Regions from separate parts of the Homo sapiens genome. Here region 2 is linked to region 1. The links come from fine-mapping of genetic effects on gene expression. Tissue or cell type: whole blood. Region 1 holds a variant in brackets; the other region holds the start of a gene. All regions are shown on one strand. Distances are from middle to middle.

Region 1 (8,100 bases):
TTTCACCATGTTGGCCAGGCTGGTCTCGAACTTCTGACCTTGTGATCCACCAGCCTTGGCCTCCCAAAGTGCTGGTATTACATGCATAAGCCACTGTGCCCGGCCTCACCTCATGCATTTTGAAAGCTCCAAGGTTTGAGTGTTCTCTCTTCAGCCTCCCAGCAAATGTGTGAGAGGTCAGGAGTGGAGGGTGATCCCTGATAGAGCTGAGGCCAAGGCGTGATTACCTGTCTGATGTCACATGGTGAGTAGGTGGCCCACTTGCGATTAGAGCCCAGGTCTCCAGGATGCTCTCTCGTCTGAGGCCTTGCTTGGCTTGCTGGGAAGCGAAGGAAGGGATCACTCTGGCAGTGCTGGCACCGGGGCTAGCTCTCCTAACCCTCTGGGTTTCCTTCCTTTCTCCCAGGAATGATGTCTGGAGAACCCCTGCACGTGAAGACCCCCATCCGTGACAGCATGGCCCTGTCCAAAATGGCCGGCACCAGCGTCTACCTCAAGATGGACAGTGCCCAGCCCTCCGGCTCCTTCAAGATCCGGGGCATTGGGCACTTCTGCAAGAGGGTACGGGACCGGGTCAGCATTATCTGGGCAGGGGTGGCAGGTCCTCCTTCCTCAACAGGGCAGGGCCAGTGCTGTGTGAAATTAAAGGCGTTGTAGGATAAGCCTACTGACTCCCCGCAAGGACTGAGCGTCCACCATTAGGGCTTCCTCTGTTTGAGGGGTGCCCTTCCAGGAGGGTTCCTTGGGACTGATCCCAGAGCCATCAGTCGCCTATTTTCCTCCACCCTTTCCTGAGCCAGTCTCTTTGGAGATGGGAGGTGCAGTCTCAGACAAGGGTAGAACAAATTCTGAGTGAAGGAAACGTCCGTGTCCACTGGAATCCTGGCAGGTATTCCAGGTGGGGAGGAAGAGCACAGGCAATGACTGGGAGGTGGGCCTGAGTGCCTCTCCTGTTGTCTCCACAGTGGGCCAAGCAAGGCTGTGCACATTTTGTCTGCTCCTCGGGTAAGTGATCTGCTTCCCCATCCTGTCCTCTGCTGTGTGTCCTGGGATCAGACACTCTGCTTCTCTGAGCCCTGGTTTCCCCAGCAATGTGCCACTGAAAACAATGGCAGCAGCCACCAATTTGGAATTCCAGGGGGAGGCCAGCAGTCGCCCAGGGTGGGGAGGTGAGGGGGGAACTCCAGAGCCCCCAGTAGAGGGTACGCAGTCCTGCCTGGGCTCCCAGATGCTCCCGCACTGACACGCTCTCCACCCCCGACCCTGGCAGCGGGCAACGCAGGCATGGCGGCTGCATATGCGGCCAGGCAACTCGGCGTCCCCGCCACCATCGTGGTGCCCAGCACCACACCTGCTCTCACCATTGAGCGCCTCAAGAATGAAGGTGCCACAGTCAAGGTGGTGGGTGAGGTGAGTGCCGACCCAGGGCAAGGAAGAGAGAGGGCGCCTGGTGGCTGGACAGGGTGCCCCCTGTGCCTCACCCCCTCCTATCTCCCCTGTGGCTTTGCAGTTATTGGATGAAGCCTTCGAGCTGGCCAAGGCCCTAGCGAAGAACAACCCGGGTTGGGTCTACATTCCCCCCTTTGATGACCCCCTCATCTGGTATGTGGAGTTCAAGGTCACTTGGTGGGGGTGGCAGCCACTGCCCTATATCACTGGGCAGGCATTGCTATGATGCACATCATCACGTCCTCATGCACAGCAGCTGCACATGTGTGCGCACACCACCATGTAGAAGCACACTTAGGCGGGGCACAGTGGCTCACGCCTGTAATCCCAGCACTTTGGGAGGCCAAGGTGGGAGGATCACTTGAGGTCAGGTGTTTGAGACCAGTCTGGCCAACATGGGGAAACCCCATCTCTACTAAAAATACAAAAATTACCTGTACTTGGTGACACACGCCTGTAATCCCAGCTCCTAGGGAGACTAAGGCAGGAGAATCGCTTGAACCCAGGAGGTGGAAGTTGCAGTGAGCCATGATCACGCCACTGCACTCCAGCCTGGGCAAGAGAGTGAGACTCCATCTCAAAAAAAAAAACAAAAAAAAAAAAAAAGAAGAAACACACGTTACACCCAGGTGCAGCAGCAAGTGCACACATGTCACCAAATGCCCATTATCCACGGCTGCACATGCAACACACCCAAGGCTGAACATGCAAGCACACAGATGCCCAAGTGTCTGCAGTTGAGTCCTCCTGGAAGCAGACTTGGGGACAAAGGTTTCAGGGAAAGGAGTTTATTTGGGAGGTGATTCAGTGGGGGAGTGGGGAAGTAAGCCAGGGAAGGAAGGGGGCTTTGCTGTTTCTTTTTTCTTTTTCTATCATCCAGTCCAAAATGTCAGGAAGGGGGCTTTCAAAGGCAGGTGGCCGCTGTGGGTGGCTAGAGCTTAATCCCTCGGGGACCCTGGGAGCCAGTGCAGAAGGCGCACAGCAGTTTCCCGCCCCCTGGGAGAAGGAGCAGGGGAGTTTGTACACCGACTCGTAGCCATTGGTTGAGGGCTGCCTTAAGGGGCTGCCATCTCCTGACTCTGTTTGCAGGTAGCTCAGGTGGCCAGAGAAGGTCCTCAGGCAGAGACACAGATGCTGGCAGCTAGAAGCCAAGGTTGGGGGTGGGGAGGGAACTAGCTCCAGGCCCCATCAGCTGGGATAAGGCCGGTGCAAACCTGAGCTGGTGTCTCCAGGAAGCCTAGCCCTGACCTGCCACCCCCTCTCCCCACCCTCCAGGGAAGGCCACGCTTCCATCGTGAAAGAGCTGAAGGAGACACTGTGGGAAAAGCCGGGGGCCATCGCGCTGTCAGTGGGCGGCGGGGGCCTGCTGTGTGGAGTGGTCCAGGGGCTGCAGGAGGTGGGCTGGGGGGACGTGCCTGTCATCGCCATGGAGACTTTTGGTGCCCACAGCTTCCACGCTGCCACCACCGCAGGCAAACTTGTCTCCCTGCCCAAGATCACCAGGTGAGCAGCTGGGGTGCCTCCCTCGGGTGTCCAGCAAGCACTGGGGAGTCCCCCTTAGGGCTGGCTTTGAGATAGATCCTGATGTCAGCCTGTTTCACAGATGAGACAATGGAGGCTTTGATCGCTTGCCCAGGGCCACGTCCAGTGAGTGGTACAGCTTGGACTCAAACCCAAGTCTGTGTGACTCCAACATGTCACACTTCCTCACGTGAAAAGCCTCATATGAGGCTGGGCACAGTGACTTGTGCCTGTAATCCCAGCACTTTGGGTGGCTGAGGCAGGAAGATCACTTGAGGCCAGGAGTTCAAGACCAGCCTGAGCAACATAGAGAGATTCCCACCTCTAAAAAAAGTTTTTTGTTTTTTTTTTAAATTAACTGGGCGTGGTAGCACACACGCATAGTCCCAGGCTAAGGTGGGAAGGATTGCTTAAGCCCAGGAGACTGAGGCTGTAGTGAGCCATGATCATGCCAGTGCACTCCAGCCTGGGTGACAGAGCAAGACCCTGTCTAGAAACAAAGAAAAAGGAAGGAAGGGAGAGAGGGAGGGAGGGAGGAAGGGAGGGAAGGAAGGAAGGAAGGAAGGAAGGAAGGAAGGAAGGAAGGAAGGAAGGAAGGAAGGGAGAGAGGGAGGGAGGGAGGGAAAGAAGGAAGGAAGGAGAAAGGAAGAGGAAAGAAAGAGAGAGAAAGAAAGAAAAAAGGAGAAAGAGAAAGAGAGAAAGAAAAAGAAAGAGAAAGAAAGAGAGAAAGAAAGAAAAAAGAGAAAGAAAGGAAGAAAGAAAGAAAAAGAGAGAAAGAGAAAGAAAGGAAAGGAAAGGAAAGGAAAAAGGGAGGGAGGGAGGAAGGAAGGAAGGAAGGAAGGTCTCATAGGAATCATTTACTGAGTCCTCTGTGGCAAGGTTTTACATACCTCATTACTTTGCCAACCATTTACTGAGCCCCTATTGTGTGTAAGACACTGGCTGATCTGGGGAGAGAGTGGTGCATAAACACAAGTCTTGCTCCTAAGGAGTTCATATCCAAGCCCCAAACCTTTGATAGTTTGTTTGTTTTTGTCTTTGTTTTTTGAGACAGAGTTTCGCTCTTGTTGCCCAAGCTGGAGTGCAATGGTACAATCTCAGCTCACCGCAACCTCTGCCTCCCAAGTTCAAGCGATTCTCCTGCCTCAGCCTCAGGAGTAGGCGTCTGCCCCAACACTTGGCTAATTTTGTATTTTTAGTAGAAATGGGGTTTTACCGTGTTAGCCAGGCTAGTCTCGAACTCCTCACCTCAGGTGATCTGCCCACCTCAGCCTCCCAAAGTGCTGGGATTACAGGCGTGAGCCACCGCACCCGGCTGGTAGATAGTATTTAATTAGGATTAGGTTTTGACCCCATTACACAGAAGGCCCAAATAACAGTGACTTAAATGAGATTGAACTTTACCATGAAAAGTCAGGGCGCCAGGTCCCTTGAGTTTGTTTCCCCATTATCCTTAGCATGTAGTGTTTCAGTCCAAAATGGTTGCCTGAGTGCCAGCTATCACACCCACATTCCATTTGGCAGGGATGGGGAAGCAAGGGCAGAAGGCTATGCTCCAACCTTCAAAGACAGACACAACACTTCCACTTACCTTTCGTTGGCCTGAACTTAGTCACATGGCCACATCCAGCTGCAAGGGAGGCTGGGAAATGTCTTTACACCAGGTGCCCATAAGTGCAGCTAGAAAAGACACCGGGGCAGACAATAGTCTCCCCTACAGATAGGGAAGACTGAGCCCAGCCAGGTAAGAACTTCTTCCAGATTCCTGAGCCTGGCATCTGGAGCTGCTGTGTCCCACACTGTAGGGACTGAAGACGTCATGGCTGAGCGCCTACTGTAAACCA[C/T]GTGCTGCTGAGGGCTGAGGTGGCTCAGGCCCTCAAGATGCTCCTGGGGAAGGGAGAGGGGGCAGCTGAGCTGGGAATAGAGCTAGTGGTCACCCCAGGAAGCTGGGGACAGCGTCAACACATTGGTTACCAGTGCAGGTCTTGAAGTTATACAGATCCTGCTTGCAGCCCCAGCTCCAGCACTCCCTAGGTGTGTGACCTTGGGCAAGTGACTGTACACTCTCTGCCTCAGTTTCCCCTTTCCAAAATCAAACCAATTAACAACAGCAGAATTCTTGTGTGAATTCAATAATGCTTGTGAAGTGCTTGGCACCTAACACTTTCTCAAGAAGTACTCAGGGCGCTTGTTACTAGCAGGGAGGACTATTTGAGAATTCCACATAGGGCCGTGGGACTCAGTACTCTCCCAGGAGGACTCCTTGGAGGAGGTGGCCTTAATCCTGAGCCTTGAAGGACACAGCAGGATGTGGGCAGGCAGAGTGGTGCTAAGCTTCATGAGGGTTAACCAGGTAGCGGTTGTAACCCGGAGCAAAAGCAGGGAGTCCTAGCAGGGAACAACAAGGGTCCTCTTAGGCATTTGCTCCTGACTTAGTGTTGATCAGAATATGACGCTGTGCCGAGGCAGGAGGATCACTTGAGCCCAGGAGTTCAAGACCAGCCTGGGGTCGGGCATGGTGGCTCATGCCTGTAATCCCAGCACTTTGGAAGGCCGAGGGGGGTGGATCACCTAAGGTCAGGAATTCGAGGCCAGCCTGGTCAACATAGTGAAACCCCATCTCTACTAAAAATACAAAAATTAGCCGGGTGTGGTGGTGGGCACCTGTAGTCCCAGCTACTCGGTAGGCTGAGGCTGGAGAATTGCTTGAACCCGGGAGGCAGAGATTGCAGTGAGCTGAGATCGCACCACTGCACTCCAGCCTGGGCAACAGAGCAAGACTCCGTCTAAAAAAAAAAAAAAACAAAAAAACAACAAAAAAACAAACAAAACAAAAACCCGCCTGGGCAACATAGTGACACTCAGTCTCAAAAAAATTAAAAAAATGATACTAAAGAATATACTATATGATGTCAATTCAAACACTCTGCACCTTATTAGAAGACCCCACTTGGTTTGGGGATCCCTGAGGCTTTTCAGGGTTTTACAGCTGCAGAGGTGATACCTGTCCCCCTGCCCCCAGATGCATTGCCTTCTCTGTCTCACATCCATCTCCTTCTCTCCCTCCCTGCCCCCATCTCTCTCCTGTTTCCCCCACTCCCATCCTCTTCTGGGTTCCCACTTCTCTCAGTGTTGCCAAGGCCCTGGGCGTGAAGACTGTGGGGGCTCAGGCCCTGAAGCTGTTTCAGGAACACCCCATTTTCTCTGAAGTTATCTCGGACCAGGAGGCTGTGGCCGCCATTGAGAAGTTCGTGGGTATGTGCCAGGTCCTCCCATGACCTGACCTGCTGACTCAGGCGCTAAGTGGCTGTCCACTTGGTATGCCACTGGGGATCCCACTCACCCCAAGTTTCCTTCACAGTTCTGTCTTCCACCTCTGCCTAGAATTTTCCATTAATAGAAGATAATACAATGCCGTGTAGAAATAGAAAAGCAAAAGCCACACATAATGGAAAAGTAAATAGAAAAGTAAGCCTGATAACCATAGCAGCAGAAAACAATAAGTGAATATTTAAAATGTTGCTTCTGAGTTTCCTGGCAGCCAGGGTAAAAAAAGGAAAACATGGGGCTCAGAGTTTGATTCATTCAGAGGTGAGTCTGTAACTAGGCTGGACTCTTTCTGGGTTCCGTCTAGGGCAGGGATGGCAAAAAAGAGAGAAAAAAATAGTACCATTTATGCTTCTGTACCTGCTGCACACTTGGCTAATCAACCATGGAACTCTTGCTCAGATGATGCCTCAGAATCCTTCTCAACACAGTGCTCACGCAACCACACTCATTCTATCAGTGTTAGCACTCATGATGAAACCCAGGCCCTGGCTCAGGCTTGGAAGGGCCAATTCAGGCCGATGACGGGACGTTTGGTTCAGGACCTGCGGCTGCAGCCAGGGCTGAGAGCTGATTGGCTCAGTATTCCCAGGTCCTGCCAATGGCCTGTCAGCTCCTGTGCACCCTGGGAAACTCAGGCCACGCCCCTGTCACGCCCCTTCTCTGGCAGATGATGAGAAGATCCTGGTGGAGCCCGCCTGCGGGGCAGCCCTGGCCGCTGTCTATAGCCACGTGATCCAGAAGCTCCAACTGGAGGGGAATCTCCGAACCCCGCTGCCATCCCTCGTGGTCATCGTCTGCGGGGGCAGCAACATCAGCCTGGCCCAGCTGCGGGCGCTCAAGGAACAGCTGGGCATGACAAATAGGTTGCCCAAGTGAGGACGGACCCCTTACCGATCTGTGCTCTCCTAGCCCAAGAGACCCCTGGAGGGGCTGGAGTTTTATCCAGCGCCTCGTCGTATGTTTGGCTGAGCACCTGTGGCCTGGGTGCAGGTTAACTTCTTGTTATCAGGAGCCCACTATGCAGAGGCCAAAGGTCGGCAGCCAGCGAGGCTATGAATTGGACCTTTTTGGTATCTGTGTGACTGCTCTGTGCCCATCCTTAGCCAACTTGCTGGCGTGACAAGTGCCCACAAGTAACACACCAGGTACCCAGAGCAGGGTGGACAGGAGAGACCTGAATCACAGCAGTGAGGAATTCCTCAAAGCTGTGACCTCGCCCCTGAACTTGTTCCCAGTGAAGGTCAACAGGGCCACCAACCAGGGTTGAGGAACCATCTCAGCCATCCTCCCAGGAAGCCCACCCCTGACCCTTACTAATTTTTCTAATGTGCAAACTTTTTCATTGAAAAATAAAATATATTTATGAAACAAAGATCCTGTGCATTTTCCCATCATCAGCTGTCTCCTTTCCTGCTTTCCTTCCACCCCAAGTCTGCTCTCAGCCCCAGCTCTCAACTGGGGCCCCAGAGTGAGGCCAGGAGCCTGACTCCAGCTAGTCTTGCATGCCAGGACAGGGGCATCCCTGTACCACAGGAAGCAGGTGGCTAAACAAGAGGGACTTGGGGTGGGACAAAGGCTGCCTCCGCTGAAGGCAGAAGCAGCTGGGGAGGCCAACTTCATTCTGATATGAAGTCCTTCCTACTAAGTCAGAATTATTTCATCACAGACCCAATGGAAGCAAAGAAGTGAGGCCCCCTCCCCTGGGCGTGTGTGAGCTGACACTGGACACCCATCTCTGGGAGAGGGAAAGGGTGGGTGGACTTGAAGTCAATGTCATGCAAACCCTCCTCAAACATGGAG
Region 2 (8,100 bases), 27 kb before region 1:
GACAGATCGAGACTCCGTCTCAAAAACAAACAAACAAACAAAAACCCTTCAGCTTCAGCAATCAACTCATGGTCTAACTCGCTCCCCTATCGGTGCCCACTCCCCCTTCCTGTGTCATTATTTACCCCTTAATTACTATTATTCTTTTATATTATTTCACCTGTAAATATTTCAGCATGTCTCTCTGGAGGTAAAGAACTTGTGTTTTTGAGACAGAGTCTCACTCTGTCACCCAGGCTGGAGTGCAGTACTGTAATCACAGCTCTCTGCAGCCTCGACCTCTCAGGCTCAAGCAGTCCTCCCACCTCAGCCTCCTGAGTAGCTGGGACTACAGGCACACATCACCACGTCTGGCTAATTTTTGTACTTTTTTGTAGAGATAGGGTCTCACTATGTTGCCCAGGCTGGTCTCAAACTCCTAGGCTCAAGGGATCCTCCTGCCCCAGCCTCCCAAACTGCTGGGATTACAGGCGCGAGTCACTGCATCTGGCCTAAGAACTCCTTTTTTATATGTAACCATATGGTTTCATGACTGTACATACATTTGTTCAAACACATTGAATTCTATACTTAAAGTGGGCTAATTTTATTTTATGTAAATTATACCTCACTGAGGCTAATTTTTTTAAAAATGTAATCACAATACTATGATCACATCTAAAAATATAATTTTTTCATATCATCAAATATCTGTTAATTGTTCACATTTCAAATCATCCCATTAAATATGATCAGTGGCTGATTCTGTGGTTGGTTGTGGTTTGGGGTTTTTCACGGTTTGAATCAGGATGCAAATCAGATCCGTGCATTTTGATTGGCTGAGGGGTCTTTTAACTCTGCCTCCATCTGTACGTTCTTGAAAGGGGAACTTTGAAATGGATGACAGGAAGAGAGCCAAGAGGAAAAGTTCCTACAGAGAACAGCAGCCAGGACCACCTCGAGGGAGAAATGCACTTTGGGGTGCCGCGGATGCAGACAGAAGGGGTTTGGGGCAGGAGGTGAGGGTAGGGGGTGAGGGCGGAGATGTGGACAAGGGTGCCAGCAGGGGGTTCCCGCCCACGGAGAGGAGTTTGGTTGTTATTCAAATTCTACCTGCAATGGAAAGCCATTGGGAGGTGGTGGTGGAGGTGGTGGTGGTGTTGGTGGTGGTCGTGGTGTTTTGAAAGGGAGTCTCGCTCTTGCCCAGGCTGGAGTGCAGTGGTGCAATCTCTGCTCACTGCACCCTCTGCCTCCCGGGTTCAAGCGATTCTCCTGCCTCAGCCTCCCGAGTAACTGGGACCACAGGCACACGTCACCACGCCTGATTAATTTTTTGTATTTTTTGTAGAGACGGGGTTTCACCATGTTGGCTGGTCTCAAACTCCTGAGCTCAAGTGATCTGCCCACCTCGGCCTCCCGAAGTGCTGGGACTACATCCGTGAGCCACCGCGCTCAGCCCTTTGAGAGGTTTGAAGCCGAGGAGCTGTGTGTGAATGGACCAGTGGGTAAGGACGAAAAGAAGAGATGGAGGAAATGAGAGGGAGGAAAAATAGTAGAGAAAAAAAAAGGAAAAAATACAGCCAGCTCCTCTTGTCCCAGGCAGAAAAGCACTGGGCCGGTCCCCACCATTCCATTATTGGCCGCTAGGGGGGGCGCTGCAACTTCCCCTGCCCACTCACAAACCTAACCTTCTTGTCCACCCTTAAGTCATGGCTGGGGTTCCAAGATCAGAGAGATCAGGGTCTCTTGGCCCTGAGTTTGACCCCACGCCCTTGTCAGAATAGCCTTGAGAATCCTCAGGGCCCCCTCGGGCAGGGCACAGCCTGAGCCACCTCTTCCCAGTCCCACCCAGGGCACCTCTCAGCTTCGGGCATCAGGGGAAAGAAGCCCATGGGTCATCACTGATCCCCAAATGCCGCATACCCCAGCCTAGGCCTCAGCTCAACCCTGGACCCCAAGAGCACAGGCTTTGGGGTCGACCAGAAGCAAAAGTTAGAAACCAGCTCCGACTTCCTGGCTGTGTGACCCAAACAAGTGTCACAACCTCTCTGTGCCTGTTTCCCCTTCTCTAAAATGGGGATAAAAACAGTCCCCAACTCACAGGTTGTGGTGTAAGTTAATAAGAATAACATTGGCCAGGTGCAGTGGCTCATGCCTATAATCCCAGCACTTTGGGAGGCTGAGGCGGGTGGATCCCTTGAGGTCAGGAGTTCAAGACCAGCGTGGCCAACATGGTGAAACCCCGTCTCTACTAAAAATACAAAAATTAGCCGGGTGTGGTGGTGCACACCTGTAGTCCCAGCTACTTGGGAGGCTGAGGTGGGAGAATTGCTTGAACCTGGGAGGTGGAGATTGCAGTGAGCCAAGATCTCACCACTGTTCTCCAGCCTGGGCAACAGAGTGAGACTGTCTTTAAAAAAAAAAAAAGAGAGAGAGAGAGAATAACATCTGTCATTTGTTGAGTCCCTATTATGTGCCAGTCATCAGCTGAGTCCTCTGGAGACGTTATCTCACTGATACCTTGTGTCATGCTTTGAGCATGGTGACCTGCTTACCCTTACTTTAGCATGTTTACAGGGCACCTACAAGATGCAGGCCCTGACCTAGCAACAGGGGATACCACTGTGGACAAGATAGACATCAACCTTGGAGCTGAATTATAGCCTGATGAGATGGGCACTTAACAAATAACTGCATAGACAAACAAAATAATCAGAAATGTTGAAAACTTCTAAGAGGGAAACACGCATATAGGGAGTCCTAAAGAGAAGAACAAGGGGACCTACTTTGGGTATGGAGGTCAGGAAAGACCTCTTAGAGGAAGTGACCATTAAAACTAAGAACTGAGACAGGGCGCGGTGGCTCATGCCTGTAATCCCAGCACTTTGTGAGGCAGAGGCAGGCGGATCACCTGAGGTCAAGAGTTCAAGACCAGTCTGGCCAACATGGAGAAACCCCGTCTCTACTAAAAATACAAAATTAGCCGGGCATGGTGGCGCATGCCTGTAATCCCAGCTACTCGGGAGGCTGAGGCAGGAGAATTGCTTGAACCTGAGAGGCGAGGTTGCGGTGAGGCGAGGTTGCAGTGAGCCGAGATCGCGCCATTGCACTCCAGCCTAGAGAGTAAGAGGGAAACTCTGTCTCAAAAAAAATAATAAAAAATTAAAAATTAGACCCGAAAAATGAGAACCAACCAACCACACAACAAACTGCAAGAAGAGCGTGTACATGGCAGGACTATTGTGAGGATTCAATGAGCCTGCATGGTAAGGGCACCCATGTTGGGTGTCTGTCCACTTGGAATTGGGTCTCTCTTCCTTTTTGGTGAAATCCCCAGATTTTTCCCCTGGGGATCCTGGGATTGTCAGGATGAACTCCCCCTACTCCATAATCCTTCCGCTTTCTTGTTTTTTTGGTGTTTGTTTTAGAGACAAGGTCTCACTCTGTTGCCTGGGCTGGAGTGCAGTGGCACGATCATGGCTCACTGTAACCTTGAAGTCCCGGGCTCAAGCAATCCTCCCACCTCAGCTTCCTGAGTAGCTGGAACTGTAGACATGCACCACTGTATCCGGCTGATATTTTAATTTTTATAGAGATGCAGTTTTGCTGAGTTGTCCAGGCTGGTCTTGAACTCCTGGCCTCAGGTAAATCTCTTGTCTCTGCCTCTCAAAACACTAGGATAACAGGTGTGAGCCACCTGTTGGCTCACAACAGATGAGTCATTAACTCACCATTGACTCCATTTTATAAACAGTGAACCTGAGGTCCAGAGAGATTAAGTAACTTATCCAAGTTCACACAGTTAGAAACAGCATAGCCAGAATTCACACCAGGCAGTGTCTTTGGCATCTGTGCTATTAACCGCGATGCTATACTTTCTCTAATATACTAGTGTTATCGTTACTATTATGAAAGCTGCATGCATTTAATATTTATTGCCAATTGTCCTTTGGAACCAAATGCTCCTGGCTCAGTTTCCAGGCTTCCCCAGCCCTCTTGGTTATACTGACTCACAAGAGGACAGCAGGCATCAGTTAAATGAAAAAGCCCCAAGTTGCCAACAGCCTTATCAACCCCAGACCCCATCAGGCACCTGAGGTCTGGGACTGAGCTGTCTTGGCCCAGGGACACACACCTCTTGTCCCGTATGGCAGCCACCAGGGCTGAAATGGGGGACCTGGGTCTCCCTGCTGTGGAATAACCCAGGGGAAAGCAGGGGGCTCAGGCTCAGGTCCCAGTCATGCCAACCTTGGCCAAGTCACTTTTGTCACTGGGCCTTACCTGTCACATCTATGAGTTGAGGTAAGGACCACCAGTGCTGTCCACCTCACTTGTCCCCAAAGCCTTTCCCCAGAGGCCACCTTGGTGGCACTCCACAGCCAAATCCCTGGTGCCAGGGCTGGGACACCTCGGGCTGGCCCCTTGGCTGGCAGAATGCCCAACCCTGCCCCTCTGGCAGGCAGAACCCACTCTCGCCCTTCAGGGTCCCCAGCACAACACTTTCTTCTGCAGGGCACCCTGAATTCAATCGACATTCCCAGGAGGGCCTAGAACACGCTCAGGCCCTCTCACTCCCACCTGCTCAGCTTGGACTTTGCCCAAAGCCTCCCAAACTCCTGCAGCCTCTCATCAGCCTCTCATTCACACACACACTGAGCCCCAGGGGCCCCAGCTGGCCCCAGACCCCTTACCTCCCTGCCCAACTATCCCAGACCAGCGTGGCCCCAGCTCCTGCCCTCCAGCCTGCCAGGGAACCAGCTCTTTCCAGGAACCGGCTCTGTCCAGCTTCAGGCAGCTTCCGGCAACCTTGGTCCCTCCTCCTTTGTTAAAGAGAAAGCTCCAGACCCTAAGCCTCCGGGTGAAGACGGAGGAGGAGAGGGGATGAGAGCAACCCTCACCGCTTTCCCGGGCACTGCCTATGACTCATGCACCACCCTGTCTCATTTGACAGATGAGCAAACTGAAACTCAGAAAAGGGAACTTATTTGGCCAAAGCTTCCCAGACAGCAAGGGGCAGAGACAGCCTTTACCCCTGGCCCTGGGCCATCTCTTCCGGGATGCAGGCATCTCCATGTCTTCTCATTTTAGGTCTAGTGATTGTCCCGGATGCTGAACCACTGTTGGGGTCAGCTTAGGTCTGGGATGGGAAAACAAGGACAAGGGAACTTTTTTTTTTTGAGACACAGTTTCATTCTTGTCCCCCAGGCTGGAGTGCAATGGTGCGATCTCGGCTCACTGTTACCTCCGCCTCCTGGATTCAAGCGATTCTCCCACTTCAGCCTCCCAAGTAGCCAGGTTTACAGGCACCCACCACCACGCCAGCTAATTTTTGTATTTTTAGTAGGGACAGGGTTTGACCATGTTGGCCAGGCCAGTCTCGAACTCCTGTCCTCAGGTGATCTGCTTGCCTCTGCCTCCCAAAGTGCTGGGATTACAGGCGTGAGCCACTGCACCTGGCCAAGGAAACAATTATTATAATTATTATTTGTGACATGGGAAAGGTATATTTTTGTCTGAAGCACCTCTCCGTCTCGGATATTTTACACGCAGCATGAGAACCCAAGCAATTATTTGCTACTCAGATGAATGACTGACCATTCATTCATTCATTAAATGTTTATTGGACACCTACTATGTGCCAATCCCTGGAACTTTGGCCTCAAACAAAATAGCATGTCCTCTGCCTTCACAAAGCCCTTAGAGAGGGCCATTAGAGAGCACTTATTAGTGCTATCAGATGTTAGCAGCTGGCAGGGTGGGGCAGGGCTGTGGAACCCAGAGCAGGCACCCCGCCTGGCCCTGGGGGGCTGGGGAGGCTTCCTGGAGGAGGGGAAGTCTGAGTGGAGCCAGGAGTCAGGCACAGGGAGTGCAAAGGTCTGGAAATGAAAAACATGATATATTCCAGGGTCAGGGTAGTATCCAGTGGGGCTGGGAGGGAGAAGGCAGGGGTGGGGAAGCAAGTGGGGTTGAGGCTGGAGATGTGGGCAGAGATCAGAGTCCACAGGGATGCCTGTACCAATCCAGAGTTTGGACCTTACCCAGGGGCACTAGGGAGCCACAGAAGGCTTTAGGTGGGGGGAATGACATGGTCAAATTCATGTCTTGTCTCTGCACCATCTCACTGGGTGAACCTGAGCAGCTCGTGCCCATCTCTGGGCCTCAGTTTCCCTATGTGGAAAGTGGGAACAGGAAGACCTGGCATCACAGATGTTGTGTGTCCTTCTTGGGCTGTTTCTGATCTCCCCAGGTTTGATGATTAACTCCCAGCCACTTGGGGTTAGATGGAGCTGCTTGGCCGTGATCCTTAATGTGGACTCTGGCAAGTTTCTACCCATCCTCGCTTTAGACACACATCCATCCTTGTTGGGTGCCTTGTCCTGGACTGGGTACTGGGGACACAGAGGTGATAAAATCCAGTTTGTGCCTTGAAGTGGCCCCCAGCATGGAGGGGAGAGGAAGACACCCAATTCGGTAGCAACAATAACACTTCCTAAGATGACAGAGGGCAGAAAGTCCCCATAGGGTAGCTGGGGATGGGGCAAGATCAGGGAGGGCTTCTTGAAGTAGGCAGAGACTCAGCACACAGCTCAGACTTTGACAAGAAGCAGACTAGCTGCATTTAGTGCATGTCTACTGTACACCAACACGTGCATGCTGTCCAGCGTAACCCACACTGTTTATTTGTTTGTTTGTTTGTTTGTTTGTTTGTTTTACAAACGAGGTCTCACTGTGCTGCCCAGGCTGATCTTGAACTCCTGACCTCAAGCAATCCTCCTACCTTAGCCTCCCAAAATGCTCGGATTACAGGCAACAGCCACTGCGCCCAGCCCCCAAAGGTTTTTTAATAGTTGGCAATCTATTTCTGTGTGCATTAGGAAAGATGTGTGTATGTATGTAGGTATATATATATGTGTATACATATGTATGTGTATGTACATATAAAATATCAGACCCATAGTTTCATGGATATGATGGCTTAGGAAGAAGCTAAGGTAGGTATTAAAGTTTAAAAATGGAGCCTCTTTAAAAAATATATTAATTGGCCAGGCATGGTGGCTCATGCCTGTAATCCCAGCACTTTGGGATGCCGAGGCAGCTGGATCACCTGAGGTCAGGAGTTTGAGCGTGGCCAATGTAGTGAAACCCCATCACTACTAAAAATACAAAAAGCTAGCTGGACATGGTGGTGGGCGCCTGTAATCTCAGCTACTCGGGAGGCTGAGACAGGAGAATCACTTGAACCGGGGAAGTGGAGTTTGCAGTGAGCCGAGGTCGTGCTATTGCACTCCAGCCTGGGCAACAAGAGCGAAATTCCGTCTTAAAAAACATATATAAATATATATATGTGTGTGTGTATATATATGTTTATAAATATATATATTTGTATATAATATATATTTATATAAATATATATACTTGTATATAATATATATATTTGTATACAAATATACATGTTTGTATACAAATATATATGTATATAAATATATATATTTGTATATAAATATGTATATGTATATAAATATATATTTGTATATTATATATATTTGTATATAAATATATATATATTTGTATATAATATATATATTTGTATATAAATTATTAGTAGCAATAATAGTAGTAGTAGTTTCTGGCATGAACAAGCAGCATGCCTAGTAGTTAAAACACAGACCTGCAGCCAGGCTCTGATACAAATACTTGTTCTGCCACTTTCTCACTGTGTGACCCTGTGACCTTTTGTAAGTCACTTAACCTCTCTGTGCCTTGTTCCCTCAAATGTAAGATGGGGATAAAACACTACTTCCCTAGTACAGTGGATGTGAGGATCAAATGCATTAATGCAGGAAAATATTAGGACAGTAGTTAGTGCTCTGTGTTCGCTGCTGTTGCTTTTGCTTTATTTTGTTTTGTTTTTTGAGACAGAGTCTCACCATTCACTCTGTCGCCCAGGCTGGAGTGCAATGGCGCGATCTTGGCTCACTGCAAACTCTGCCTCACGGGTTCAAGGGATTCTCCTGCCTCAGCCTCCTAAGTAGCTGGGATTACAGGCTTGCACCACCACGCCTGGCTGATTTTTGTATTTTTAGTAGAGACAGGGTTTCACCATGTTGGCCAGGCTGCTCT

Evidence for each region. PIP is the estimated chance that this variant, and not a neighbour inherited with it, causes the effect.
Region 2: it holds the start of SDSL, and the variant in region 1 is fine-mapped to the expression of SDSL in whole blood (TOPMed, PIP 0.97).

What each region holds. Positions count from the first base shown.
Region 1 is chr12:113,392,017-113,400,116 of GRCh38, reverse strand. It overlaps SDS (serine dehydratase), which reads left to right. Exons shown (of 8, transcript NM_006843.3): 2 at 407-561; 3 at 966-1,005; 4 at 1,271-1,410; 5 at 1,511-1,602; 6 at 2,725-2,952; 7 at 6,101-6,225; 8 at 6,968-7,672. The coding sequence starts at 409. The coding sequence ends at 7,176. Among named protein-coding and RNA genes, the nearest start is that of SDS, 7.8 kb to the left of the region's middle. RefSeq lists an enhancer at 6,704-6,903. The variant C/T (reference allele first, on the strand shown) is at 4,815.
Region 2 is chr12:113,419,048-113,427,147 of GRCh38, reverse strand. It overlaps SDSL (serine dehydratase like), which reads right to left and starts at 4,768. Exons shown (of 8, transcript NM_001304993.2): 1 at 4,671-4,768.